4 linked regions of the Homo sapiens genome follow. The protein of the gene in region 2 interacts with the protein of the main gene of each other region in a pairwise test. Each region holds a gene or a part of one and is shown on either strand. Other genes may lie near its edges.

What was found.
Region 1: the proteins of ATXN1L (region 2) and RBPJ interact in binary tests that used the Homo sapiens proteins (3 or more experiments, as listed by UniProt).
Region 3: the proteins of ATXN1L (region 2) and RBFOX2 interact in binary tests that used the Homo sapiens proteins (3 or more experiments, as listed by UniProt).
Region 4: the proteins of ATXN1L (region 2) and PICALM interact in binary tests that used the Homo sapiens proteins (3 or more experiments, as listed by UniProt).

The regions. Positions count from the first base shown.
Region 1 is NC_000004.12:26,421,992-26,429,018, reverse strand, and holds part of RBPJ (recombining binding protein suppressor of hairless), read right to left. Parts: intron 4,678-7,027; coding exon 4,540-4,677; intron 4,389-4,539; coding exon 4,276-4,388; intron 300-4,275; coding exon 159-299; intron 1-158. UniProt on the Homo sapiens protein: Transcriptional regulator that plays a central role in Notch signaling, a signaling pathway involved in cell-cell communication that regulates a broad spectrum of cell-fate determinations.
Region 2 is NC_000016.10:71,848,957-71,855,983, forward strand, and holds part of ATXN1L (ataxin-1-like), read left to right. Parts: intron 1-667; 5' UTR 668-784; coding exon 785-2,854; 3' UTR 2,855-7,027. UniProt on the Homo sapiens protein: Chromatin-binding factor that repress Notch signaling in the absence of Notch intracellular domain by acting as a CBF1 corepressor. Binds to the HEY promoter and might assist, along with NCOR2, RBPJ-mediated repression.
Region 3 is NC_000022.11:35,738,823-35,745,849, forward strand, and holds part of RBFOX2 (RNA binding protein fox-1 homolog 2), read right to left. Parts: intron 5,428-7,027; coding exon 5,383-5,427; coding exon of another isoform or gene 5,373-5,382; 3' UTR 1-5,372. UniProt on the Homo sapiens protein: RNA-binding protein that regulates alternative splicing events by binding to 5'-UGCAUGU-3' elements. Prevents binding of U2AF2 to the 3'-splice site.
Region 4 is NC_000011.10:85,996,076-86,003,102, forward strand, and holds part of PICALM (phosphatidylinositol-binding clathrin assembly protein), read right to left. Parts: intron 5,084-7,027; coding exon 4,960-5,083; intron 4,705-4,959; coding exon 4,568-4,704; intron 855-4,567; coding exon 751-854; intron 1-750. UniProt on the Homo sapiens protein: Cytoplasmic adapter protein that plays a critical role in clathrin-mediated endocytosis which is important in processes such as internalization of cell receptors, synaptic transmission or removal of apoptotic cells.

The sequences.
Region 1 (7,027 bases), on a different chromosome or scaffold from region 2:
GGATTGTGTGTTAAGGATGCTCATACCTGAGATAAATATCTGTGTATAGCTTCATGTATTTGTATATAATTAACAGCAAATGAAAATTTCATATTTTTGCAAGCTGCTAACCTCACAGTTTGTACATTTTAGATTTCACCAGTAATTTAAAAACATACCTGAAATTGAATTATTCTTTCTTGAGAAAGGCACAAATACATTCTTTCTGTATCCTTAAGGTAAAATGCACATTTATGGAGTTGTGACACAGGATCATCTGCATCCAATAATGCGGTCTGCTTATCAACTTTCCTAATTATCTATATTTAACAATTAAGAAATAAAAGGTCATCCACACATGGAAAGGATTTTCCTTGTGTAAAACATCAAAAGTACATAGAAGCTATATACTGCATAATAATACATCACAGTTATTTGTCCTATGCCTACATATATAAAAACATTCACAAACAAAAAGACTAGGAATAAAAAACACTTTTAGATTGCAAGCATGTCAGAATGTAGAAACTGTTACCCTCTTCCCTGAACATCTAAAAAAAAAAAATCAGGCAGGCAGGCACTTGTTTTCTAGATCAGTGTTTTTCAAACATTAATGTGCACATAAATGAGCTGGGGTTCTTGTGAAAAACACAGGTTCTGATCTAGCAGGACTCTTGTGGGGCCTGATATTCTGCATTTCTAACAAAATCCCAGTTGATGTTAATGCTGCTGGCCTACAGACCATATTTTGAACAGCAAGTTCTAATGATATTTTCCAATAATATGCATAAAATGACAAATACTCCAACATCAAAGGGAAAAATCTCTAGAAGGCTACTGTCAGTGCAAACGTCTTATATCTATTATCCAAAACTTACGTATTTAAAAACATAACAAAATCAAACTCATTTTACAGATTACAAAATGGGCTTAGAAAGGTCAGACAAATTGCTCAAAATTACCAGTTTAGTAGCTGAAGGACCAGAATATGTCCTGATCCCAGGGCTGGCTGCCTGTCCAACTGATCTCTAAAGCTTATAACGCAACTAGTCTACAAAACACATGAATATCTGAAAGATAATACTATCAAACCCTATATGACACTTGACACCTAGAAGGTAATGGCTAAGTAGATGATCATGATGAAGAGCAAAATTTGACACAGAACTTTTACTCTGTTTCCTTTTCTATTGATCACTTCCAACAACATACAAACATAACTATCTCTCATCTCAAAATCAAAAGTAAAGAAAACACTGACTACATGCTCCTGTCCCTCCCTCTCACTACCTGTTTTTCTGCAAACGCCTCTTCCTCACTGTCCAATCTCCTGCAATCTCTCCAACCTTTTATCTCAAAGACGCCACTACAACTGCTTTTCAAAGCCACCAAGGATTTCCAGACAGATGCATCTCACGGCACTTTTCTGTCCTCATTTTACTTCATTTTCTCAGAAGCTCTCAACACATTTTGCTTTCAGGACCACAACTGCTCCAACTGACCTTTAAAATGCCCAGAGCTGAGTTCTCAGCCCTCTTTTCCTCTCTTTATAATCTATACTGTTTAAAAATTTAAAGGTTGACAACTCCCAAATTTATTATCTCCAGACTTCTCTCCTGCATTCAACTTGTATGTACACTTAACTACCTATTCAACATTTCCACTTACGATGTCTAACAGGCACCTCAAGCTTAGCATATCGAAAACAGATTTTTGGATTTCCTCCTAAACTTGATCCTTCCCCAACTCATCTAGGTCAATAAATGGCACTAGCATTCACTCAATCCAAAAACCTTAAGAGTCACCCTTGATGCCTTGCTTTCTCTCACACCCAACCATCCAATCTGCCAGCAAATTCTGTCAGGTCCACTTTCCAACAAATCAGTCACCCCTCACCACCTTAATACTATGATCCTGGGTCTAAGATAGCATCAACTCTTGCCTCAATTATGACAACAATCCAAGCACCTGTCTCTCTGCTTCCACGGCCGCATTGCTATGCTCTCTTCTCCACACAGCAGCCACACATATACTTCTAAACAAAAATAGGCCATCGTGCCCCGTTTAAAATCCTCCAGTGGCCTTCTAACATGCAGAGATAATATGAAGTCCTTACCCTAGATACAGAGAGGGATCCTACAAGGTCTTGCTTAGTGCTAACCTTACAGATTCAGTTCCTGCCACTTGACCTCTCCTCCCTCCGCTCCAGCTCCACTGGTTTCTTTACTAGTCATCATACATCCCCTGCCTTCAGTTCTGTACTTGTTCTGTTTGCCTGAAATGCTCCTCACTCAATTACCGGTTCTTTGACTTCATTCTGGGCTCTCTTCAAATACTGCGACTTCAAAAAGACTTCCCTGACCTCTCTAAGCGCTCCTCCAATTCTCTATCCCTTTATTATCTTGTTTTGTTTTTTCATCACTACATAAATCCTTTACATGGGTATTTGGCTTATCACTCTATCAAAATGTAAACTCAATGACGAGAGGCACTCGACTTTGCATGTCAGAATTCCTGTCATGAAACCCCTGGAAAGATTTATGTATCAGCGTCTTAATAATGGTACTGCAACTTTTTCTAATAAGTTAATTTTTCATTGCAACATTTTTATATAAAGCCATACAGTTTTGAGTGTAAAAACCTCAATTAATGACTTTCAAGCAAGGCAGGCTACTGGTACTTTACAAACAACTGTAAATGAAAACATTGTTTTAAATTTGGGTCTGTCTTCTAAGTGGTTTGTATTATAAACTATTGGTGATCAGAATCATCCTCCTAAGTTGTGCTTCTGCAGTACAAGCATTTAACACCAAAGCAAATGAACATCATCCTTGGAACAGAGGAAATGAATGAGAAGAGAAAAAAAATGAATAAATGCTGATTCAGATTTTTTGCTTGCTTCTGTCTCCTGCTCTGTTTTTCATGCCCTTCATTCCCTAACGTTACCCTTTTTATTATAATTTGTCTCAGCTGCAAAGCTTTACAGATTACTATTACTATACTTCATGTCTTCTAGCTTATTGCATTGACATGGGAAATAAAATCACCTTGTACAATCATGACAGAGGGTAAAAAAAAAAAACAGTAACAAAGAAATGAATCACTGGCTTAGAAAACTGTAGATCAAACCAGCCTCTGCTGAAATGACCCCAGAAAATATAAGCCAGTGGAATATTGCACCAAAAAGATAAATAGGAGGCATGTTTAGGAACATTAATACTAAATGTTCTTCTACTCACCCAACCTCTTCAGTCTGACCTTGAATCAAACTTACTCATAAATCCCCTTCATCTTGAATATAAGTAAATTATATTGTTTGAGAAAAGGAGAGGGAAAATTGGGAGGGTGGTGGCACTATAGAGGACTTTTGTTTTCATTTTACTAACAAAAGTAGTTTTTACAATTTCAAGATCTCCTTTTCTGTGGTTGTTGAGATAGGATCTCATTCTGTTGCCCAGGCTAAAGTCCAGTGGTACGATCACCGCTCATTGCAGCCTTGACCTCCCGAGCTCAAGTGATCCTCCCACTTAAGCTTGAGACTACAGGTGTGCACCACCATGCCTGGCTAATTTTTTTTTTGGGGGGGCGGGGTCAGTGGTAAAGACGGTCTGACCATGTTGCCAGGACTAGTCTCGAACTCCTGAGCTCAAGTGATGCCAGGGCTAGTCACTTCTCCTTCTCCTGCCTTCACCTGTTGAAGTGCTGGGATTGCAGGTGTGAGTCACCATGCGTGGCCGAGTTTCAATGTCTTCTATTGAACAAAAGCCCTAAATCCTATGCCCTGCTCCCAGTTAGAAATACCAATTTTATTTCAGTTTTAATAAATCTATCTTCTTGTGAGAGAGTAAGCTAACAAAAATTACGCTTATATTTCAAAAGAAATAAGAATGTCTTCTGTTTGCAAACTTGGTCCTACATTGGGATATGGCAGGTACCACAAAAAAATGAATACGGTTTATCCGCATTAGTAAAGAAAAGAAATGTAATTTATAGTGCCCTCTACTGAACATCTTCAGATAAACAGCCAAAAAGGAAATTGCCACCAAAATATATTGGAAATCATTTAAGAAAAAATCATTAAGAATGTACTTGTAAAAACTGGCTATTACCTTAAAGCATTTCTGAAATAAGGTAGAGCATAACTGTCAATTATAAACAGCACTGATTACTAACATACCTTTTAAAATTAAAAAGCATAAAACTGAGGTGTGTTTTTCCATTTGAATGTTGTGATTTTCCTGTTTAAGAAATTAATTTTTACTTCACATTATCACTAAAGCAAAAGTAGAGCCATACCAATCTTGGGAGTGCCATGCCAGTAACTGAGCACACAAGTTTGACTGTTTGTCCATAATGGATGTAGCCATCTCGGACTGTGAATTCTTCTCCTTCTGATTCATCATCATCCACTGCAGTAGGTGGAAAAATAAATCAAATTGTCATCTTTTTAAATTTATTTTATGATTAGGCAAATGACAAAACTTAATATATCCATGTATCTCATCAAAAGATTTTAACAATTTCACACTAAAAACATTAAATGCACACTTTTATACTCACAGAGATGAATAAAAAAGGCTCCCCACTGCTGTGAACTGGCATGAAAATTACCTCCTTCTACATGCAAGTATCTGGTACTAACTGTCTGGGATCGTAGTCGATTAAACAGAGCCACCTTTGTTCCTGAGGCAATGCATACTGCAAAGAAAAAACAGCTCTTATTTATGTGATTGGAGCAGAAGGTGGGGAGGGAGCAAAAGAAGGAAATTCTGCTTGGCAGTGTATAATTATTCTTTCTTATCATTTAACAGTTTGACAAATATTTTCACTTTCCAAGACAGTACAGATGATATCAAAAAGTCAAGGTAACTGTTATTAATAATGTCAAGCTAATGATATCAAATGTCCATAAAAATAATTTTAAAGTGAAAGCTACACAGTATGTTTAATGTGGTGCTGATTATTAGAGAAAAACTTACTTTTAAAATAATGTTAGACAGTAGAAATTTAAATGATGACCTATTGAAAGGATGTGTATCTAAACACACTGATAAGAAAATATTTTCCTGGAATATCACTGAATGGAAAAGCAGACTATAAAATACTCTGTATGCTGTGGTTCCATTAGGCAAATGTATATATTTTTAATATGTGTTTGCATCCAATTCCACAGAATACATGCATAGAAAAGGGACCAGAAGGATGTTTGTCAGAGTTGATGGTAAATGCCTCTGCATACTGTGATTTCAGAAAATTCTGCTTTCTTCTAAATAAAGTATTGTATGAAATTTCTTGAAAATAAATCCATGTAAGCAGAAAAACATTCTGAAAGTGAAATATGTTCTCTGCCATCAAGAAACTAATATTCAGTACAAACACAAAGTTAAAGCAGTTACATAAAACTGTGTAATCTGAAATGCAAATAGCCTGAATACAAGACATAATATACCTCCTAGTGCAAGAGAGCACACCACCACCTTTGAAGCAGGTCTTGCTTTTCAGAAAGAAAACAAGAACCAAAGGACAACAAACTTAAATCTGATCACCATTCTACACTAAAGATTCTCTCCTTGACCATACTTTTAAGCAGGCTGCTCTGAGCAATCAACTAGTATTTGTCCTTGAGCCCCGTCATCAGTCTGTTTAGCTCAGTTATATATAGTAAGAATCCTCCTAAACTATCTCCCACTCTGGATCTATGATCACCTTGGCCTGCCTTTAGCAGGAATCCTAAGTCAGGTCAGAAAGAAACCTTCTACCTTTGATGTCTCCTTTTAGAAAGTTTCCATCCATTGACCCTCTCACTCTGCTTCATCCCCAAGTGTCTTTGTTGTATTCTGAAATGGAACTTGGTTCTATTTTCCCCTATTGCAATAGTACTGAATGAAATCTGTCTTTCCAACTAGGCCCACGCTCTATTTCTTTTTGACTCTACCAATTTACAGAAAATACATTAAACTATACCAAATAAATGAAATCAGCAAAATCTAGTACGTGGAAATCTCTAGTGACTAAATGTTTCAACTTACTTAAATAAATTGCAAGAGTTGAGGGGGTGTCCATAGATTATACTCAAGGACATATCACAATATAAACTGTACTAAGTGGTAGATCTGAATTTTGATTCAAGCAATCTGATTTTTAAAATATTTTAGACCATTTTAAATTTGAACACTGATTGGATATGCATCAAACTAAAATAAGGGCAGAAGAAAGTGGGGCTGGAGTACAGGTATAGATGAAGATAAGATTGGTTGAATGTTAAGATCACTGTTGACGTTAGAGAATGAACATAAGAGGTTTCACTGTATGGTGCAACTCTGTCTACTTGAGAGTGTTTGAAATTTTTCCGTAATAAAAACTAAGTGATATTAGTGGACTGAGTGGACTAAAATATAACCAATACAAAACAACAACAATAACAACAACCACAACAAAAACCATGATCTCATAATAAAACAAAATGAAAAGAAAGCAAACAAAACAAAAACCCTAAAACCCCACTGGTCACTTTCAAGGAATGTTATTATTCTGCAAATGAGTAAACAAGCACCTAATCCTGCCTTTTCATTACATATTACAATTGAAGCAAATAGCTGATATGGCAAAGTCCCTCTTTGTAGAAAAAACTCCAGCTAACGAATGCAGAAGTTAGAATTTAAAAAATTAGAATATCACCATTTTGCAGCATTTAATGAAATGGATTTAAACATCATCAATGACTATTAAAACCATTAGGTTAAAGTTTGCTGAGGAACTTTATGGGTGGAATAGACTTACAACAGCTGAACTACTATAATCAATCTCAACATGACCAAAAAAAAAAAAGGGGATAATCAGATATTATGACTTCCAATCCAATGGAAATAAATGTATATCTTACCAATCAGTTCTGAAAGTCTTTATGTCTAACCACCAGTTCATGGAAAGTAAGAGAGACAGAGAAACATATAATCAGCCAAACCCAGAATATGGAATTCCACAACAGGAAAAATGATCCAGTTTCTTCAACAAATAAATGACATAGAAGGAAAACAAAGGTGAGAGA
Region 2 (7,027 bases):
GTAATCCCAGCACTTTGGGAGGCTGAGGTGGGCGGATCACCCAAGGGCAGGCGTTCGAGACTAGCCTGGCCAACATGGTGAAACCCCATCTCTACTAAAAATACAAAGTTAGCCAGGCGTGGTGGTGCATGCCTGTAGTCCCAGCTGCTTGGGAGGCTGAGGCAGGAGAATTGCTTGAACCCGGGAGGCGAGGTTGCGGTGAGCTGAGATTGCACCATGTACTGTGGCCAGGGCAACAAGAGCAAAACTCCATGTGTTTTAAAAAAAAAAAAAAAAAAAAAAAAAAGCAAAAGAGCCAGCAGGAAAGACCATGTGTTCAAAGCCCCCTTTGGGAAGAAGGCAGAAAAGAGACAAGGTGCTTATGAGACACATGACTAACCGTGAAGCTGTTGGTCTCCCTGGGCTTGTGGAGCCCACAGGTTATTTGTGCATTGGTGAATGCGTGTCCCTGTAGCTCTTTGTGCCTTGTGATTTCCCCGACTGTTTCTCTCATGTCCCAGGCTGGATGAGTTGGGGGTAGCCTCCTTGTCTGCCCCTTTCTCTTTCCTCCTTATTTTCTAACAGTCCCCTTTGTTACATCTTCCTCCATGGCACAGTTCTTTCTATTTCCTTTGTCTTGGCTCATCCCTAGGTTACTTTTCTTTGCCTCTGATTTGTTCCCTAATAGATGTGGGCGCCCCAGCCAGAAGCAGAGAGGGGTACAGGGAAGCTACAGAGAAGCCCCTTCTGATGCCCCAGGGAGCAAGTCGACTCCTTCCAGGCTCCAGGAACACCACAAAGCAATATGAAACCTGTTCATGAAAGGAGTCAGGAATGCCTTCCACCAAAGAAACGAGACCTCCCCGTGACCAGCGAGGATATGGGGAGAACTACCAGCTGCTCCACTAACCACACACCCTCCAGTGATGCTTCTGAATGGTCCCGAGGGGTTGTGGTGGCTGGGCAGAGCCAGGCAGGAGCCAGAGTCAGCCTGGGGGGTGATGGAGCTGAGGCCATCACCGGTCTGACAGTGGACCAGTATGGCATGCTGTATAAGGTGGCTGTGCCGCCTGCCACCTTTTCACCAACTGGACTCCCATCTGTGGTGAATATGAGTCCCTTGCCCCCAACGTTTAATGTAGCGTCTTCACTAATTCAACATCCAGGCATCCACTATCCTCCACTCCACTATGCTCAGCTCCCATCCACCTCGCTGCAGTTCATTGGGTCTCCTTATAGCCTTCCCTATGCTGTGCCACCTAATTTCCTACCGAGTCCCCTCCTATCTCCTTCTGCCAACCTTGCCACCTCTCACCTTCCACACTTTGTGCCATATGCCTCACTTCTGGCTGAAGGAGCCACTCCTCCCCCACAGGCTCCCTCCCCGGCCCACTCATTTAACAAAGCTCCCTCTGCCACCTCCCCATCTGGGCAATTGCCACATCATTCAAGTACTCAGCCGCTGGACCTTGCTCCAGGTCGGATGCCCATTTATTATCAGATGTCCAGGCTACCTGCTGGGTATACTTTGCATGAAACCCCTCCAGCAGGTGCCAGCCCAGTTCTTACCCCTCAGGAGAGCCAGTCTGCTCTGGAAGCAGCTGCTGCAAATGGAGGACAGAGACCACGAGAGCGAAATTTAGTAAGACGGGAAAGTGAAGCCCTTGACTCCCCCAACAGCAAGGGTGAAGGCCAGGGACTGGTGCCAGTGGTAGAATGTGTGGTGGATGGACAGTTGTTTTCAGGTTCTCAGACTCCACGGGTAGAGGTAGCAGCACCAGCACACCGGGGGACCCCGGACACTGACCTTGAGGTCCAGCGGGTGGTTGGCGCTTTAGCTTCTCAGGACTATCGTGTGGTGGCAGCTCAGAGGAAGGAGGAACCCAGCCCCCTCAACCTATCCCATCATACCCCCGACCATCAGGGTGAGGGGCGAGGGTCAGCCAGGAACCCTGCAGAGCTGGCAGAGAAAAGTCAGGCCCGTGGGTTCTACCCTCAGTCCCATCAGGAACCAGTAAAACATAGACCTTTACCCAAAGCAATGGTTGTAGCCAATGGCAACCTGGTGCCCACTGGAACTGACTCAGGCCTGCTGCCTGTGGGCTCGGAGATCCTGGTAGCATCAAGTCTGGACGTGCAGGCCAGAGCCACCTTCCCAGACAAGGAGCCAACGCCGCCCCCCATTACCTCCTCTCACTTGCCTTCCCATTTCATGAAAGGCGCCATCATCCAGCTGGCTACGGGAGAGCTGAAGCGGGTGGAGGACCTCCAGACCCAGGATTTTGTGCGCAGTGCCGAAGTGAGCGGGGGGCTGAAGATTGACTCTAGCACGGTCGTGGACATTCAGGAGAGCCAATGGCCTGGATTTGTCATGCTGCATTTTGTGGTTGGTGAGCAGCAGAGCAAAGTGAGCATCGAAGTGCCCCCCGAGCACCCCTTCTTTGTATATGGCCAGGGTTGGTCCTCTTGCAGCCCTGGGCGGACGACACAACTCTTCTCTCTGCCCTGCCATCGGCTACAGGTGGGAGATGTCTGCATCTCTATCAGTTTACAGAGCTTGAACAGTAACTCAGTTTCTCAGGCCAGCTGTGCTCCCCCAAGCCAGCTGGGTCCCCCCCGAGAAAGGCCTGAGAGGACGGTCTTGGGATCCAGAGAGCTATGTGACAGTGAGGGGAAGAGCCAGCCGGCAGGAGAGGGCTCCCGTGTGGTAGAGCCTTCCCAGCCTGAGTCCGGTGCTCAGGCCTGCTGGCCAGCCCCGAGCTTCCAAAGATACAGCATGCAAGGGGAGGAGGCACGGGCTGCGCTGCTCCGTCCCTCTTTCATTCCACAGGAGGTAAAGCTGTCCATTGAAGGGCGTTCCAATGCGGGAAAATGAACCTCTTCCCCAGACCAGGACTGGGGCTTTACCCCAGAGCCTCGCCTCGCCGCCGTGAGCAGGCAGAGGATTTGCACACGCCGAGCAGGGAATGGCTTTCTTGGCAGTGAGATTTGGGGGAAAGGGGAGGCATGAAGTCAGCCTCCCAAGGCAGGATCTGTTGTTCATTACCCCATGGCATCCTTTCAGGACAACCCCAGAGGGTGTTGTGATGGGGAGCAGCAGGCCTGGGGCAAGGAAGGAAGGGGGTGCACACAGGAGAAGAAACATTCCAAAATCAGGGCCTCCCTGTTCTTTCCTCCCCATCCCTAGCTCCTGCAAGAGAAAGTCCAGGCTTTGGGAGCAGATGGCAGAGGGAGGGAGTAAAGAAAGAGCCAAAAATGATGATCCACAGCTTATAGTAGCAGTTAAACTGTCAGAAGTTTTTTTTCTTTTTTGTGGTAGAAGGGCAGGAGGCCCCAAGGTTGGAAATAAGAGGGTTCCCACCCAGAACCCTTCTTGTGAGAGATGCGCACTTTAAAGGGTGATTTTGTTCCAGATGTCTATGGCTGGGTGTGTGGGGGAGGAGCACTCTCATCTGCAGGACTCTGCTTGATCCTCTGCTTCATAGCCCTTCCCCATCTCTCCTCACCATTCTGCCTACAAGGCTTCTAGCAGCACGGGGGCCCGGAGGGAGAGCCCCTTCAGGGTTCAGAGTGAAGTACTACCTTGCCAGGGACTCAGTCAGGGGACTTTGGGAGAAAGACTTGATAGCCAGGCTGACTGGGTTCTAGGCAGGCCCTCTGGAAAGGTAGCTCACCTAACAAAGCTCCTCCATCTCAGCATGCCAGACCCACTTTGAAATCTCACAGAATCTTGCTGGTAATGGTGACTTTAGAACTAGTAGACCCTTTTTCCCAGGCACTGACCCCCCACCTTTGTCTGTGTTGTGCCCAAGTGCCTGCGCCACCCCCACCCTCCTGCTGCGCTGACCGCTGCATGGTGTCGTGACCTGGGCCTCATTTGTAGCTGCACTGCCTTTCCTTGTCTGCAAAGTTGGTTTTGTCCACTCTGACCAAGACCTCTAGTTTTTGGTGGGTAGGGGGTCTCTCTGGTTTCCCCTTCAGCTATAATCTCTATTTTTAAAATCTCAAAATCATGTCCCCTCCACTTCCACTGCCAAACAGCTTGGTGAAGAAACAAGAAGGGAACTATGCCCTGGGCCAGGGCGAATGCGTGGCTGGGCAGTGCCCATCATGGCATTTTCACATGTCCCATATGCCCCTCCTGTCTTATTCCACTGCTTCTCCCAGCATTCTGGTGCCTCCAAGCCATCCCCTCCCACCACCAGCTCTAAGATTCTAGGATAGTCTTGATAACATTTCAGTACCTGAATAGATGTCATTTTGTGTTGGTATATTCCTCTGCAAAAAGTATTTTCAATCTTGGTTGCATTGGCACCCCCCCTACCCCCCACCAATGTCTTAATCCCACATTTTCTTCACAACTTTTAGCATCAGCTCAGACCGTGGGGTTCCACTGGGTATTGGGAATTAGGCTCCCCCACTAGCTTTCAGGTGGGTAAGTTTTTTTGTTTGTTTTTTGGGGGTCTTTAGACTCTTGAAGGCAACTCAGGGTATTGTCCACGCAGCTCTCTGGTTAGACTTCTCCCAGGCTATGATCCTGGCATGTCCTTTATAAGGTATACTTGGATTGGCCGAGACCTGGCCTGGCATCAGGAGTCCAAACCTCTGAGGTCTGATCTCTGCTCTGTCAAGGACTTTCGGCAAGTCTCGTGACCTCTGGCTCTTTCACTTCCTCCCCACCTGCCAAATGGGGATAAATAATCTTACCTACCTCCTGGGGGGAGGGGAAGTTCTGAGAATGGAGTCATTCTTAGTGTTCAGGTGCTAAAGGTTGTTCTCCTGGGGGAACAGAGTGACTGAAACTGGCTTGTTTGCTACAAGCCCTACCCTCCACTCTTTCATTCCTTGAAAGCAGTTTGCCTGGTCAGTCAGCTTTTGGGGGTCCATCAAAGGAGGTTGCTGACCTGACCGTGAGTGCTTCAGTATCTGGTTTGTGTCAGAACCAGACGCCAACTTTGTACTGCATTTGGGATCATATCTTTCCCCTTCTCTGTCCCCCATTCTCTGAATGCTGCTTTCTCTGGCTTGTTTCCTACAGTGGGGGCCTGTGGGGTTGAGTCTTGAGGAATCCCCTCAAATGAGAAGGCCTTGGGAGAAGGCCTCATCTCTGGCTGTTTCATGAGCAACTCATTCCTAGAGTTCATTGTTTGCATGGGTTTCTCACAAGCGTCCTTCCTCATAGGAAGGCTCATCAACTGAATTTAGTGACATGTACACAGTAGATGCTCAAGCAGTGTCTGCAAGGACACAAGCTGAGCTTTCTCCTTATGGGGCAAACCTATGTCTAACCAGATACAGACCAATTAGTTTAGATCAAATCACCTTCCACTTGGGCTACTTGTGACTTTCCAACCTGGTAACTTCCACTGAATTCTGGAAAGAGAAATTCTTGAGGACCCTGGCAAGTTGGGCCCTGACCTTTCTGTTGCTGTCTCTTGCTGGTGAAGCAATACCAGCAGTTCCTGTAATACCACAATATCGTTCCATGCATATATAACATATTAATACTTGATTTTGCTGAGCTGCAAAGGTATCTGTCATAAAATATGGTCCCCAGGAAAAGAATCTCTGTGCTCTAAATCTCGGTCAGAGCTGTGGCCTCCCCCTTGCCTTTAACCTCTAGTTTAGTCTTTTCCTCCAGGCATGAAAAATATGACTAACCTGTGGTGTGTCCATTCTTCCTTATAGGAATTTCCTGAGTTTGCAGGAGACATGAGAGCAGTTTTTAGCGAGTATTTTAGTGGGAAGTTGCCAACTTTTTAAGAATGAGCAGTTGACAAGGGCCAGAGCCTGTCCCTTGTCAGCAGTAGGACATTTCCAGCTCTTAGGAATAGAAAGGAGGACTGCTGACTGTCTGGCGCTGTATAAAAATGTGTATACCAATTTGGGAATAGGGGAACCCAGTCATGGATGGATAATAAGCCAAGTCTTGAATCATTCCTATCAAGATTAGTATACATGAGGAAGAGGTGGCATGGGGGGAAGGGGCTCTGGGAGTTCAGAGCTGAGTACTTGTACCTGAGGGAGGGCCCCCAGCCAATCTGGGCTGGTCCTTCTATATTCTTGGTCCCAGTTGGTCATAACACCAAGGGCTTTGCCCTGCGCTGCTTTGCCACTGCTGCTGTCCGCTCACTGTCCTGCCTGCTGTCCTCTACAGCTCCCTATCCTTCCATGTCTTTGGCCATGTAGATTAAGTGTAGGCGTCCGGTTCATTCTTACCTGTGTTAGGCCATGTTATTTTATAGCGAAGTCATGTTCGATAGGGATGGTATGAAATGCTGCTGGTGGGCTGGTAAATCCAAAGGGATAAGGCTTCAGTGCTGTTGGGAGCCCTCTGGCTCCAAATGTCTGACTATCTTGAGGGAGAAACAAGCAGGTTTCTACTAGTGGTGTCTTCTGTTGTATTAACTTCTTTCCTTTGTGGTATCTTGTATCCTGTTTTAAAAACTAAATGAAGGGAACCACATTAGGGCCCATGCCAGCATCCCAGTGAAGTTCGTCCAGCTCCAGTTAGGTGGATTCTGGAGTTCGGAGAGGGTTTAAAGTTTGGCTGAAATAGCACCTCAAGTGGGGTTTAGTTTTATTTTTACCTGCGGGCATCATGGGCGATTTAGGGGGAAGCACAGGATGGTGGTGTGGTTTAAACCTGCAGCAAGCAGGCATGTTGAAGAGTTGAGTGATCACGCTGGAGATGAAGGGTTGGACATGGATTGACTGGGAAAAGGCCTGGGTCCATTGGAGTAAAGATAACCTAGTCGATTGAATTGGCCATGGGAAGTTAGGTCACAGTCTTATAAACAAAGTAAATAGGACAGAGACTAAGTTTTAGGGAGACATCTTGGCCTCCTAGGCTAAGTTTACTAAACCACACTGAAGCTATAGTACCTTCCAGATGGGCAAAAGTGTACACTACAGTTGAGGAGCTGAACCTTATTAGGTTGGATGTCGATCAGGAACCTGTTTGCCCTTTGCTGGGAAGCCTTCACTCTCCAGCTTTCCTGGGGTAGGGAAGGTCTCCCACATTATGCAATAATAAAATAAGCATCTG
Region 3 (7,027 bases), on a different chromosome or scaffold from region 2:
AAAGCCAGCAACATGATCAATAATTTATACACATGGAGAGTAATACAAAAAAATAAGGAATAAAAGCTAAAGATCTAACTACTCCGACCTTCACAATTCCAGCTACTTGATAATAATAGGAGTAACCCAATGAATACTGTATGGTCTGAAAGCTACTATACAATATGATTCTTAACGAGAAGGGAAGGGAATTAGAGACTGTCACAAAGCCCTGGGATGCTTCTCTGGAGTTAGCAGGGAAACAGGACCCTGGGCAAGCAGCTCGGGTGTCCTAGGAAGTGATTCTGGGGGAGGACGGGAGGGGAGAGAGAAGGCTAGGTGGTCGATTACACAAGCATCCCATGTAATGCCCCCATGCCCCAAAGGTACCTGTTTTGCCATGGCAATGGGAGGGGCTGGAGGAACAGCATGTTGCATGTAGGGATGGTCCGGTCCCTGCCATGGGGAGTGGGGAGAAGAGGAGAGGTTCTGTGGCATTTTGAGCCTTGCAAAGATTTGGACTGAAAAGCTCAGAGACTCAGGTAGGTCAGCCTGTCAGGGACAAGTACACTCCACCGGCTCTCTTCTCGCTTTGCAGCCCTAGCTTACGCGTGTCAGCCCCAGGTTTGCTCCAGCTATTCACAAGCAGAATATAACACAAGAAAAACAATTCATATCCCTTAGGGAAAAAAGAGGATCAATTCATCACTCAATATATAATACAGCCAAAATGAGCTGCCAAAACAAGCACACACACAAATACTGTGAACAGAAAAATACAAGAAAATGACTAAGCTGGGAGTCTTGACGGGGTATGGACATTGCTTAAAGCACTTATCAGTCCCCAGAAAAACCAAACCAAAAACATTTTTTAAAAATTCAGAAACTCATGTACCCCCTGGGAAACTGGTGTTGGTAACAAAGGGCAGGGGGTGGGGAGAGAAAAGAGAATCACTGCTCCCTTTTTGCTCGCCAGTGTGAGTGGAGTCCTCAGGTCACCGGCATGTACACAAGTACCAGACAAGGAGGACCAAGTCCCTCTGCTGGTGGCCTCCTAAAAGGCAAGGCTTGAGTTTTGGCTGATGAGCAGTTCTCTCCGTTACCAATCCCTGCCAACCAGCACTACCATGGCTGAATTGATCTACCGTTTTCCTGAGTAAACTGTAACTGGCTACAGTTTCGGTAACATGGAAAAGAACTCAGCTACTACAGCCAACTGCAATACTTCAGGAACCCCCTCCATCCCTGGGCTCCTCACTCCTAGTGCATCTGATTGAGGAATCTGATAACTTGCTGCAGTCTGGTCTGTTAGCCTCATTTGCAAAGAAAGGTGCCAGGGACTCTATTACACTCACTAAACCAGAGGGCACACGCTGGCTTAGGACACCCAGAGCCTACTTGGAAAGGGCCCTGTTTCATGCTCTAGCTCTTGGATGGCTATTGCCTGGCTGATCAGTAAAGCAAGTATGAAGGAAGTACATAGGAAAAGGAAAGGGAGGGAAGAGGCTTTTGGACAGTAACATTTCCAAAAAAATATAGTGTTTTATGCAACAGAGAATCAAGTTTCACTGTGTATACTACAAATGGTCAAACATTTTCAAGAGCATGACAAAATAAAAACACACAAATTTACGTCTGATGTTCACCTTGCCCACTATTTTTTTTTCCTATCTTAAAACAGTGCAAACAGGTAACTTATGCTTTTAAAACACCACGACCCCTTCCCCACCCCCCAAAGTCCCTTTCCTCCTAGTATCTGGGGGAAAATCTGCAATTCTGCAAATGTTACTGCGCTAGAGGTTGCAAGCAGCGGAGAACTGGCTGAACTTGGCAAAAGGCAAGGACTGGTCAAAGCTTCCCCTTTCTCCTCCTTAAACATCTAAGTGCTTTCCAGTCTGTCCCTTGGTTGGCCTTGTTCTCCTGCCAGAGGGAAGGGGGTTCATCATGCCCTTCTTGCATATCCTTGGGGTTGCTTCCATCCCTGTTTGATGTCTCCCTCATGTCTGGAAGCTATATAACTAGTTACAGGATGGTAGTGATTAACCCACTTATCTGCTAGATCTCTAGTAAAGCATAATTCTAAGCTAAGAGCAGTTTAGCCCCTGAGGAGTCACACATTTGAGGAAAAGCTGCTATCGATGACTTCTATTGTCTAGATTTCCACTAGCTCCCCTCAGACTAAAAGTTGTGCCCCAGTCCACTTCTTTCTCAAAGAAAAAAAAATGTTGGCTCAATTCAGACTGTGGCTGTTGAAGGATGATGGTGATAGTAGGTTTTGTTAAACCTGAGAGCCTGACAAATGGTGAATCACAATGGCTGATCTGAGTTAATGGAAATTGAACTAGGTGACATGAGGAATTCTGGAAAATGCCTATGGGCAGCTCTCTGGGCTCTAAGAGGGACATGGAGATAAAGGTGTTCACTAGAGGCCTCCTTTAAGGAGCCCAGCTTCCAAGAGTACAGAAAGTCCAGGTCATGAACTATAGTAAAGCTGAAAAAGAATCATGCATGTACTGTGATTTAGCATCAGTAAGTTTTCTGGAATTATCAGCCAGCATCCTCTAACAAACTCACGAAATGCCAGACTCCTCTGACTCTCTTTTTTAATACAGTGAGAACCAGAGTCAGGAACAGACAAGCAGTGCTGCTTCGAGCAACCTGCCTCTGGTGAAGTTGACCGTACGGAGTCTCAAAGTTCAAAAGGTGACGGGGAGGTTGATACTGTGAAATCCAGATGCTTGCAAGAGCCCCAATTCTCAGTGTTGACACTGAAAACCAAAGACCCTTTCATAAAAAGCAGAACTCCATTTATTCTTTCTTAGAAAAGGGAGCTGGAGGAAGCGGTGTTAAACACCATCCCTGGAAATGCAGCAGAAACCACTGGAAAGCACAGAGCTTGCCTTTGGAGGCCTCAGCCAGAACCAGCTGAACTGAGATGCACTCAAGGTGCCTCAAGCTCAAGATTCTGCCTCTCTTAAAAGGTCTGTGGGAGCCGCCTTCTCTACCTTTCCCATTATCCTTACCTCTTTCTAGGAAAAAAGAAGAGAAAAACTCTTAAACTCATTCTCCTATTCTCCCCTGCTATGGATAAAACCATTTAGAATTTGGCCTAGTCTCCACTGAATACGTGGCTTGCCATCTTTTGGGAATGGCCCCTTTGTGATCATGACCCCAAACTTCTGTTTTTTTAGTCAGCTAAAGTTCTCCCTCAAAGCAAAAGCAAAAGCAAAATCCTCCCTGCCCCCATTCCCTAGAACTGTGAAAGCCCGCATCCCATTCCCCGCTCCTCTAACTAAAATATTTATATACATACAACAAAAATTGTCTTAACAGCAACAAACCAAACTTTGGCTTGGGGTGGGGGGACCCTTAAAAATGGCCAGTGGACTGGGCAGTTGGTGTCCCCTTATTCTCTGTCTTCCTCCCCAGAGTCAGTAATAATTGCATCGAGGCCTCTAGCTTCCTTGACATCGCCCCTAGTTTCAGGCACAGCCTCTCTCCCAGTTACGAGGCGAGACAGGATTCTGAAGGGGGAAAGGATATGTATTCTACACAACAGGTCAACGCCCTCTCAGATATATCACTCTGCTTACAAAGAATGCTTGATGCTGTCATAGGTCAGTCATTTTAATTCAGGGACATGAGTCAGTTATCAGTCAAGAACATGTGTGGAGGCAGGAGTTAAAAACAAACCCAAAACAAACCCATAACCAGAAGCTCCATGTCTCTGAATTACTCCCTTTAGCAGCTGTCCCTTGGGTGAAAGGTCACCCTAGTACCAATGTGACTAGACCAGGGAGCCAAAAAGACCGTGCTTTTCTATTTCCTAATGCCTTCATTTGGGAAATGCTGTAGGACACTTGCTTTTATCAGTTCTATCTAACAGCTAGAAGAGAAACACTCCCTCCTACCTTGATAACATAGAAAATTACAGCCAGATGGCAACGGCAGTGACTCACTGCGCGACTCTTTCTGGTGATATAGAAGACCCTTGCCATCGCAGACCCTCCTTCCAATATGGGAGGGCAGCAATCTCAGGGCCTCTGCATTTTATGTCCTGTAGTGTTAATGTGTACAAAGTGGTCCGGGTGCTCAGCGGGGTGTTTTTGGAGGACAGTGAGAAGCTCAGCGGGATAGCCACAGGCTCAAGACTGTGGATAGAGAAGTGACTCATAAAGGCTCTGGAAGATGAAAATTCCTATGGCTTTGGAGCAAGTACAAAGTGCCTCTGCCTGCCCTTCCATGTCCTCATCACCAAAACTTCCAGGGACTACTGACCTAGGACCTGGTACTCTATCTTTCCCCAGCAGATTCTTTATTCTATTTTTTAAACTTTGTACTTTCTGAGGCAAGAAAAAAGTAAGAAATACCAGATCTTCTAATATTCCTTTTCCCTTCCTCACCCTCTTTAATGGCTGTCAACAATTTGTACTTCTAATCCTCAAGACATCTGGGGGAAATCTGGTCACTGGCTTATTCACTTTTCTGTCCCTGGGTCCTAAATTCCTGAATCTTATGGACATGAGAGCAGGGTGTTAATAAAAGAATACATGAGCTAAGCTGTGGTTCAATTAAAGGAGAAGAAGCCTAGAAGGAATGCTAGGTTACAGGAACAAAAAGAAATGATCTTTTTCATACTCCAGAGTTCATTCTGAGATCGGTTTCCTAATGAGGTGTTTATTATCCACTGTCTGAGAGCACGTTTGGAAATATCAATACTATAATTCCAAAAACTATGCCAGCTGTCTCAGGCTGTGCGTGTAAGATGATTGTAAAAAGAACGGAGAAGACAGGAGGGAAGAGGAGAGGAAAGCGTCTTTTTAATTCTCCTGCTTTGTAAGCACAAATTCCTATCTATCAGCATGTGGATTCCAGCCACAGCCAACCAGAATTGCCTGTCAAAGACCAGAAACTCAGAAGACTAGAAGAATATCCTGTTGCAGAAAGATCTCTTCCACTTCTGCTTGTCCCCCAGTCATTCAGCACCAGATACACTTTGGTAATTCTGTCTGCTGATTTCTGATCAGATGCATTTATCGGCTCCTAATGTCTCTCCTTCCTCCTTGACTGCCTCTTCCGTGATTGATAGAATAAGCTAAGCACGGACATACAGACATGGAAATGCATTATTTTTTTTTTTTTTACCACAGTTTAAAAAAAAAAAGAAAAAAATGCACAATCTTTGGAACAAAAGAATTAAAGGCAGAAATTTAAAGGAAAAATACATATTCAAAGAACATAGTGAGGTATAAAAAAGTATTCTTTCTTTTTTTGTGTTTTTTTTTGTTTGTTTGTTTGTTTTTCCTCTTCATCTTGCTATAGAGTTCCTCTACTAGTAAATATTGCAATAGCCAGGCCTCATGAACTGGGGGGCTGTCCCATTTGCAGGGGTCTCACGTCACTTCAGTAGGGGGCAAATCGGCTGTAGCCACCTCGGTATAAACTCGCCTGCAGTAATTAAAGAGATAAAAATAATTAAAAGGTTGATGAGAGAAGCATTAACAGTGAAGAAAAATGTCCAGAGAGGGATCTAGAAACAGCCTGCTTCGAAGCCTCAAAGCAACTGATCAAGCATTGCCTTGTGCAGTGAAGTCAGGAAACCAACTTCTGCTTCTAAGGTGCTCAGACCAGAGCCCAACACATTTATTGCTGACCTGATATTCTCAAGGAGAGTATGACGACATTTTATTTCATTATTTACATGAATTAGCACAGAAGGGAAACAATACACAGTTGAAAACAAGTTCCGCAAAGAGTTTGATTTTTAAAAGCACAGGTTTTTGTTTACCTTGATACAGCCTTATAATCCTGGTGGAAAACAGATCACCAGTTTCTCCTTCTCACATATGACCCATCGGCAGTGCACGTTACTTCTGACACGATCCCTGCCATGTGTGGTCACAGCCCATGTTTGAGATGGTGCCACATCTAAACCTGAGCCAGTCTTTAATAAAGTCTGTTTCCTCTATCATCTACGAAGCACACCAACTAGGCTGTTTCTTGACATATTCACATTTACATATCTAGCTGGGGTTTTAACTAGGCTTTATTCCTTTATGTTTATCAAATGACTTTATCTAATGGCTTATCTCTTTCAATTAGAAGTTTCCCAGGAATGCATCTTTCTCAGGTCATTCTTTTAGCATAGGACTTATATCATTTTAGGACGAAATACAACCTCAGGCACTTCTACCACTGCCGTTATATTGTAATGCTCTACTTCATTTATAAACATATATTCCCTCAGGGCCCCCTATTACTTCCTTCCACAAATCTTCATCAGTAGAAATTTGGTGTGAGAAGTAGCTTTCTCATATTCCTTTAGGTCTTACATTTTACATTTCATTCTGTCTCCTTTTCAAACAACTCTACCCATGTCCAGAGGTAGTTGCCCAGTTGCATTTTGGATTAGAGAGAAAGCCCTGGCAGAGGTGTCACTGTGGAATGGCCTGTCTTTGTTGCAGCCTGTGAGTCCTAATCACTGAAACTGGAGGCATCCAAGCCAACACAATAATACTGCAGTGAGGTGGTTGGTCAGAAGAAATTATGCTAGTTCTATGGACTTCTTCGATACTTCTATCAACAACACCATATTTTGCCACAATTGTTATCAATAATCAATAATAAAATATCCTATAAAGCATTCACTTAGGAATTTCTAGTACTATCTACCAGAAGGCTTAGGAAGAGCAGAGACATCCTTTAGATTTGCATTTGAAACTTAAGTTTTTGAAAAGCTTACTGTGAATACTACAGCCTTATGCTCCATGCTCCTTTGCCAACACCTATCAATGAAACTATGCCACAGGTATGCACTCAACATTTGAACCAATAGAAAACATTCACCAGTTCCCCTATTTCTCTCGCAAATCATGCCACTACTCGGGGCATATTATCAATGATCATTCCTTTCTGCTGCCCTTAACTAGGCCATGTGGCTCACATTATAATAACACACAAATAAAGAGGGTGACATGAAACTTCCAGGTAGATCTATGTGGCTTTAATACCTTGATGGTGGATGAAAGGCTGAATTTACTACCTCCCT
Region 4 (7,027 bases), on a different chromosome or scaffold from region 2:
CCTTCACAGAGCTTACTTTCTAGGATATAGTTCCTTCAAAAAAATAATTTAAAATGTTCTTAAATTCAAATCATTAAAATAAAATGAAAAAAAGCTTTGTTTATATACTATAAAAACTCATTAGAATAATTAACTTATCTTGCTATGAGAGATAAGCCTATCACTTCAGAACTGCTTAAGGGCAGCAAACATTCTTATTGGTACAAGGGGAAAATTCTTTGACTAGCAAAATCTTTCAGGTCTTAATTAAAAAAACATTTAAAACATTTATGTCTTGACCATAAAGCTGGTCGAGACAATTATGGTCACAACATGTTCCCTGTGTGATAATACCATCTGAGTTTTATTAGAACTATATCATATACTTAACACAAAGATAAGTTATTCCCCAAAAGTTAAAAAAAAAAAATTCTACACCAAAATCGAAATAACCACCATGCATTTTCTGGTTATGGAATAAAAATTCAACATTAAAAGAATAATCTCATAGTTAAAAACACACTTGGTCCTTCCTCTTACATTTAGTTTTATCTTTATTAAATGTCATTTCATAATTTAATTGAACATAAATTCCTAAATTATTTATAATAAATGAACATACCTTCAAGGGATAAAATTGCTTCATTGCCATTTTAATACTTATCAAGTTCTCATGTATCAAGTGTAATAAAAAACTACAAATAAGTAAACACCACAGAATGAGGAGGAGAGATGCATGTAACATCTAAAATAGAATTCATCAATGCTTACCTCCCCATGTACTTGCTACCTGAGAAGCAGTTGACATAGGATGTACAGATGGGTGAAAAGTTGGCTGCTGCAAATCAAGCAGATCATTGGGCAGCTTTGATGTGCTAGAAAGATATTTTGGAAACGTGTTTTATTTACCAGAAAAACTTTGCTACTTTAGTGTCACCTTCTCCACCCACCACAGATAAAAACATTAAAAACAAGGGAGAAAAGTCTCATTAATATAAATCTCAAAAGAGGAACAGTTTCTTCATATGACAGCATATTTCTAAGGAGGCTTGGAAAAATAATCTAATATCATATCTTAAGTTTATATAAGATTCAAAGAACAGTAGCTCTTCTGAAAAGGATGAATGTCTTCCCCTAGAAAAAACTAATTTCCCTATTAAAATGAACCTAAACAACAAGATTCTAAAATACAAAATATCACAGCAATTTTAATATTTTTAATAAAACTCTTTTCTTACTTTTAATATTCACAGAACTTGAATCACATTTGCAATACACTACACAGTAAAATACTCATTAACCTCACTTCTAGTGCCTCAGTGTCCAAACTATGTATCAATGATACAGGGAAAAAATTTTACATGCATTTATGAATAGAGCCACCCCATCACACAACACACTATTTACATGATATATTTCTTTCTTCTTTTTTTTGAGACAGAGTCTCGCTCTGTCGCCCAGGATGGAGTGCAGCGGCGTGATCTTGGCTCACTGTAACCTCTGCCTCCCAGGTTCAAATGATTCTCCTGCCTTAGCCTCCCAAGCAGCTGGGACTACAGGTGCGCAGCACCGCATCCGGCTAATTTTTGTATTTTTAATAGAGACAGGGTTTCACCATGTTGGCCAGCCTGGTCTCAAACTCTTGACCTCAGGTGATACGCCTGCCTCGGCCTCCCAGAGTGCTGGGATTACAGGCGTGAGCCACTGTGCTCAGCCTCTTTTTTTGTTGTTGTTTTGCTTTTTTTGAGACAAGAGTCTCACTCTGTTGTCCAGGCTGGAGTGCAGTGATGTGATCTTGGCTCAATGCAACCTCCACCTCCTGGGTTCCAGTGACTGGCATGCCTTAGCCTCCCAAGAAGCTGGGATTAAAGGTGCATGCCACCATGCTTGGCTAATTTTTGTCCTTTAGTAGAGACAGGGTTTCACCACACTGCCCAGGCTGGCCTCGAACTCCTGACCTCAGATGATCCACCCACCTGAGCCTCCCAAAGTGCTGGGATTACAGGCGGGAGGCACCATGCCTGGCTTACATGATATATTTCTACCTCAAGACTTCTATGTAATTTTTTTTATTTGAGACAGAGTCTCGCTCCGTCGCCCAGGCTGGAGTGCAGTGGAGCGATCCTGGCTCACTGCAAGCTCCGCCTCCCGGGTTCATGCCATTCTTCTACCTCAGCCTGCCAAGTAGCTGGGACTACAGGCGCCTGCCACCACGCCCGGCTAATTTTTTATATTTTTAGTAGAGATGGGCTTTCACCGTGTTAGCCAGGATGGTCTCGATCTCCTGACCTCATGATGCGCCCACCTCAGCCTCCCAAAATGCTGGGATTACAGGCATGAGCCACCATGCCCGGCCGACTTCTATGTGATTTTAATGAACAACTCAAAACATGACCCCAGAGTGTCTAAGAATTCAAACACAGTACAGATAATTTTTTTAAGAGAAGGGGTCTGGAGGCTGGGTGTAGTGGCTCATGCCTGTAATCCCAGCACTTTGGGAGGCTGAGGCGTGCGGACTGCTTGAGTTCAAAAGTTCAAGATCAGCTTGGGCAAAATGGCGAAAAAATACGAAAAATAGTTGGGCATTGCGGAGTGCGCCTGTAGTCCCAGCTACTCGGGAAGCTAAGGCAGAGGGAATGCTTGAGCCCAGGAGGTTGAGGCTGCAGTGAGCCATGGCTGTGCCACTGCACTCCAGCCTGGGTGACAGAGTAAGTCACTGTCTCAAAAGAGAGAGAGAGATTGAGAGAGAAACAGACAAACAGACCAAGAGATGTTGCCCAGGCTAGCTTGTACGGCTGGGCTCAGGCCTTCCTCCTGCCTCAACCTCCTGAGTAGCTGGGACAACAGGCACACGCCACCACACCCAGCTCCTAATTTTTAACTTATATATTCTCCAAAATAGAATGTTTTTCTTTTTAAATGGATATACAATAATTGTACATATTTATGGGATACATATGATATTGTGATACATGCATACCATGTAATTATCAGGACATCTATCACACCTCAAACATTCATCATTTCTCTGTGTTGAGAACATTCTAAATCTTCTAGCTACTTTGATATAGGTAATACAATTGTTTTTAATTAGTAATTCTACTGTGCTATCAAACACTAGAACTTATTCCTTCTAACTGTATTTTTATAAAAAAGTTTTGAAGACATGTCTTTTAGATGTACAATAGTTGTGTAGATAGTAGATATAAACGCATTTAGTGCTTTGGGGAACATATAGAATATACAATAATAATTCTGTAAATGGGCTGTAAGATTTGCCCTTAATTACTATTAAAAAGGTGAAAATTTTTAGTATGTGACATAAAACATAGTGAAATTAGTTCTTTATCCAATAATTTGTTTCAGCCTCGAACAATGAACATTCTTTTCACTTCTTTCTCCTAGGACAGACTTCTTTTCAAGATCTCCATGTTGAGAACTTGCCCCTTAATGGGGTCAATGTTACTTAACTGGGGATTAAAGAAGGTAGCATACATGAGCAAACAAATCATAAAGCTGAAAGAAAAAAAAGAACTAAATTCAACAAACACCTACTAAGATTTCAGGGAGCAGGTAGCAACTGAGCATGCATACAGCAAGCAGTTCACGTAGTAAAACTTACACTGAGCTATTAGGCTCAGCTATTAGGAGTCAGTAGGCAGGCAGATGAGCTTTTAAGGGTGAGTTAATAAACAGCAACAACAAAGTGAAAGGAAAAAACTCACCACTCTCTATGGAACATTTAACATGTGCTAATAATGCACTGTGCTAAAACCTAGTCACCTGGGAGCATCTTAAAAACAAAAATTCTTGGGCCCCAGGCCCCACCTACTGAATCAAAACTCTAGGATTGGGACTCAGATATCTGTAGTTTAATAAACTCTCCAAATGCTTCTGATGTTAAAGTTGAGAACCACAGTCTCATCTGAAAACAAGGTTTCTCAAAAAAAGTTAAGAACTAACAGAGCCAGGATTCAAACCAGAATCTGACTTTTAAAACTACTTTAAGCCACTCTGAGGTTCAGAAAATGCCAATTGTTTTACTTTACCTGGCAATATTATATTTCCATGTTAAGTAGCTTAAATTAGACAACAAGATTATTAAAGTTAGTCTGGTAGGCTTCAATACCAAGAAACCTGGCAACTAAACTCTGTCACTGTGTTCCAGATTACAGAGTTTAAAACCAGGAAACAGATATGACAGACGTTTAATATCTAATGAAATGGTATTTTGAAATATATATCATATCCATATGTCAAAGAGCTATAAAGGGTCTTGAACCATTAGATGCCTCATAAATGTGTTTAATCATAATTTTTACACAATGAAAAGTTGGCCCAGAGATAACAGCTATATTCCTATTAGTATAAATCAGTGATTTAACTATCTTCCATTTCGTAAATACGTAAAATATAAACTCATCACTTTATCTTTAGGTATTATACCAATATCACCATTTATCGCCACCTCTTTGTGTGAATAGATTATAAAAGCATAAATAAAAGTAAACCTGAAAAGTTCTGCAAAATTTCTATTAGAAGTCTTTGAACCTACATATTCAAAGGTAACCTTAACTTCTACTCCTACCTGTTAGAAGAACTAGGGGTAGAAAATATGTCAATGGCTGGTGCAGTCATTATCCCTCCTGCTGAGGTGGATACAGGAGAGGCTGCAGTTGTTAAAGAGGTATGAGGTTTCTTTGCAAGTTCTTTTAGGCGCTGTTCCTGTTAAGAAAGGGAACTACCATAAGGATTCCAGAAACCAGATTTCTTTGTACAGCCTCTGAAAAAAGCATTTTCTAATTTGTTCTGATAGCAGATATTCTGTTTTACCTAATTCTATGTCAGGACGAAAAGTTAGACTGAGTTTCAGCCCATTAGGTAGCTATACATTTAAGACTCTAAGTCTGTGCAGAGGCCCCATTTACCTAATGAACACCTGTACTCATTTTTCGAAATAAGGAGAATGCACAAACTTACCTTTAAAGCTTTCAAACGTGCCTGTTCTTCCTCTAATGCTGCCTGCTTTTCCCTTTCATCCACTTTGGTCAGAGATAGACCAGTGCTTGCCAGGGAAGACACTGCATTGGAAAGTGTAGTTGCCCTAGGATAATTGAACAGAGATAATTTGGCTTTTTGCTAAACACTTCACATTACACCCAGGTCATGAAATGGTCTGGCAACCTTGCCATGGATAGGCACTATAATTATAAACTTAACTTCTGGATTCAAATCCAGTACTTCAGATGAAATATTCTACCTAGTGATCTACAGGATTAAAGCAATTAGAAAAATCTTGACTTAATATACACTCACTGCTTTCAGAGTAAGTGTTTGACTTTGGAAAGGGTTCACAACAGAGTGGGGCACATTGCCTCTTCCAAGCCCCAAGAGAGGAAACCAGTGCAATTGGGAAAGAGCCCACATAATCCCACAAAATCCCTGATGGGAAAAAGTGTTGAGTTTATCACAGGGAAAACCCTCTGCTAATTTACAGCCTACGTTTCGGCAGTGCCACAGGAACACCAAAACATGCATACCAGTAACACGTAACGTAAGTCTAGGTATGTTTCACCTATAACAACATCCCCAGAGGACTTCAGGTTCCTTCAAAAGAAGACTGGTTTCAATCTAGTCATCAGGCCATTTGGCATCTTTCTATGTGCTGCCCTTTTGCCAAACCAGAATTTCCTTTTTAATATACATGTACAATGTATCATTTTTCACTGGCAAGGCACCTCCTTTCCCTTTTATCAAAAACGTATCCACACTATAAACCTCAACATTAACTTTCCAAATGTTAACTCTAGGCTAAGTAAAACAAGTGGTAAAGAATTCTAACCTGAAGAACTACCTTGAGCTTTATTAATTTTCCTTTTACCACACACCAAACATCATTAGTTTCTACTCTTAAGCACGTAAAGTGGTAAAAACTACCTTTTAAATTTTATGTAATATTAGTATTATAAATAAGCCAATAAAAAGGTACAATTCAGAAGACAAAGGAAGAATAACATAGTTGTGACAGAAATGCAAGAAAACCAATAAATTTTATGATAAACATTTCAGGTAAATTGGTGCACCTGAACTACGTGGCTCTTTTTTTCGTTATTCTCTCAAATAAATGAGACTTATTGTTTTGACTGCTACTTCGAAAATCTTACTAGAAAATTCAAAGTACAAATCTAGGATTAAAAATGAGTACTAAAATCCAATAACGGCATTTCCCTTTGGAAATTATTTAAATTTTATTACTAAAAGAAAGATCAAAAGTTCTGAAACAACCAGAAAGTCTAAAAAGAACCAAAGGAAGGTTCTCACTATACAAATTCTTTCTTCATGCTGTTTTAAAAAAAGGTTCATAAGAAAACATGAGAATAACTCAAGTAATTTCTTAACCCAATACAAAAATCATGTTACCAGACTGATATGAAATGATTTCTGTTACTTTCAATTTGCTAGGTTAAATGGTCTTAGTCTGAGGAATTAGCTTAAAACATAATAAAGTGATTAAAATATAAAATATCAATAATCAACCCCATGAACTGGCATTAGGCAGAGATGATGCAATTTGATGTCAGATATTCTAGGTTTGAGTCCCAGCATTGCTACTACATACTTCACAGGGCTATTGTGAGGATTGAGCAAATTAATACGAAAGTATCTTGCAATTATAGGCCTGGCACGGTGGTTCATGCCTGTAATCCCAGCACTTTGGGAGGCTGAGGTGTGCAGATCACTTGAGTTCAGGGGTTCGAGACCAGCCTGCTCAACATGGTGAAACCCTGTCTCTACTAAAAATACAAAAATTAGCCGGCCGTGGTGGCATGCATCTGTAGTCCCACCCTTGGGAGGCTGAGGTGGGAGAATCGCTTGAACCCAGGAGGTGGAAGTTGCAAGTGAGTTGAGATTGTGCCACTGCACTCCAGCCTGGGCAATAGAGTGAGACTCTGCCTCGGGGGAAGAAAAAAAAAATGTATCTTATAACTACAAAGCACCACATAAAACAATGCATTAGCATCTTTAGGAGAAATTTTGACATCATAAA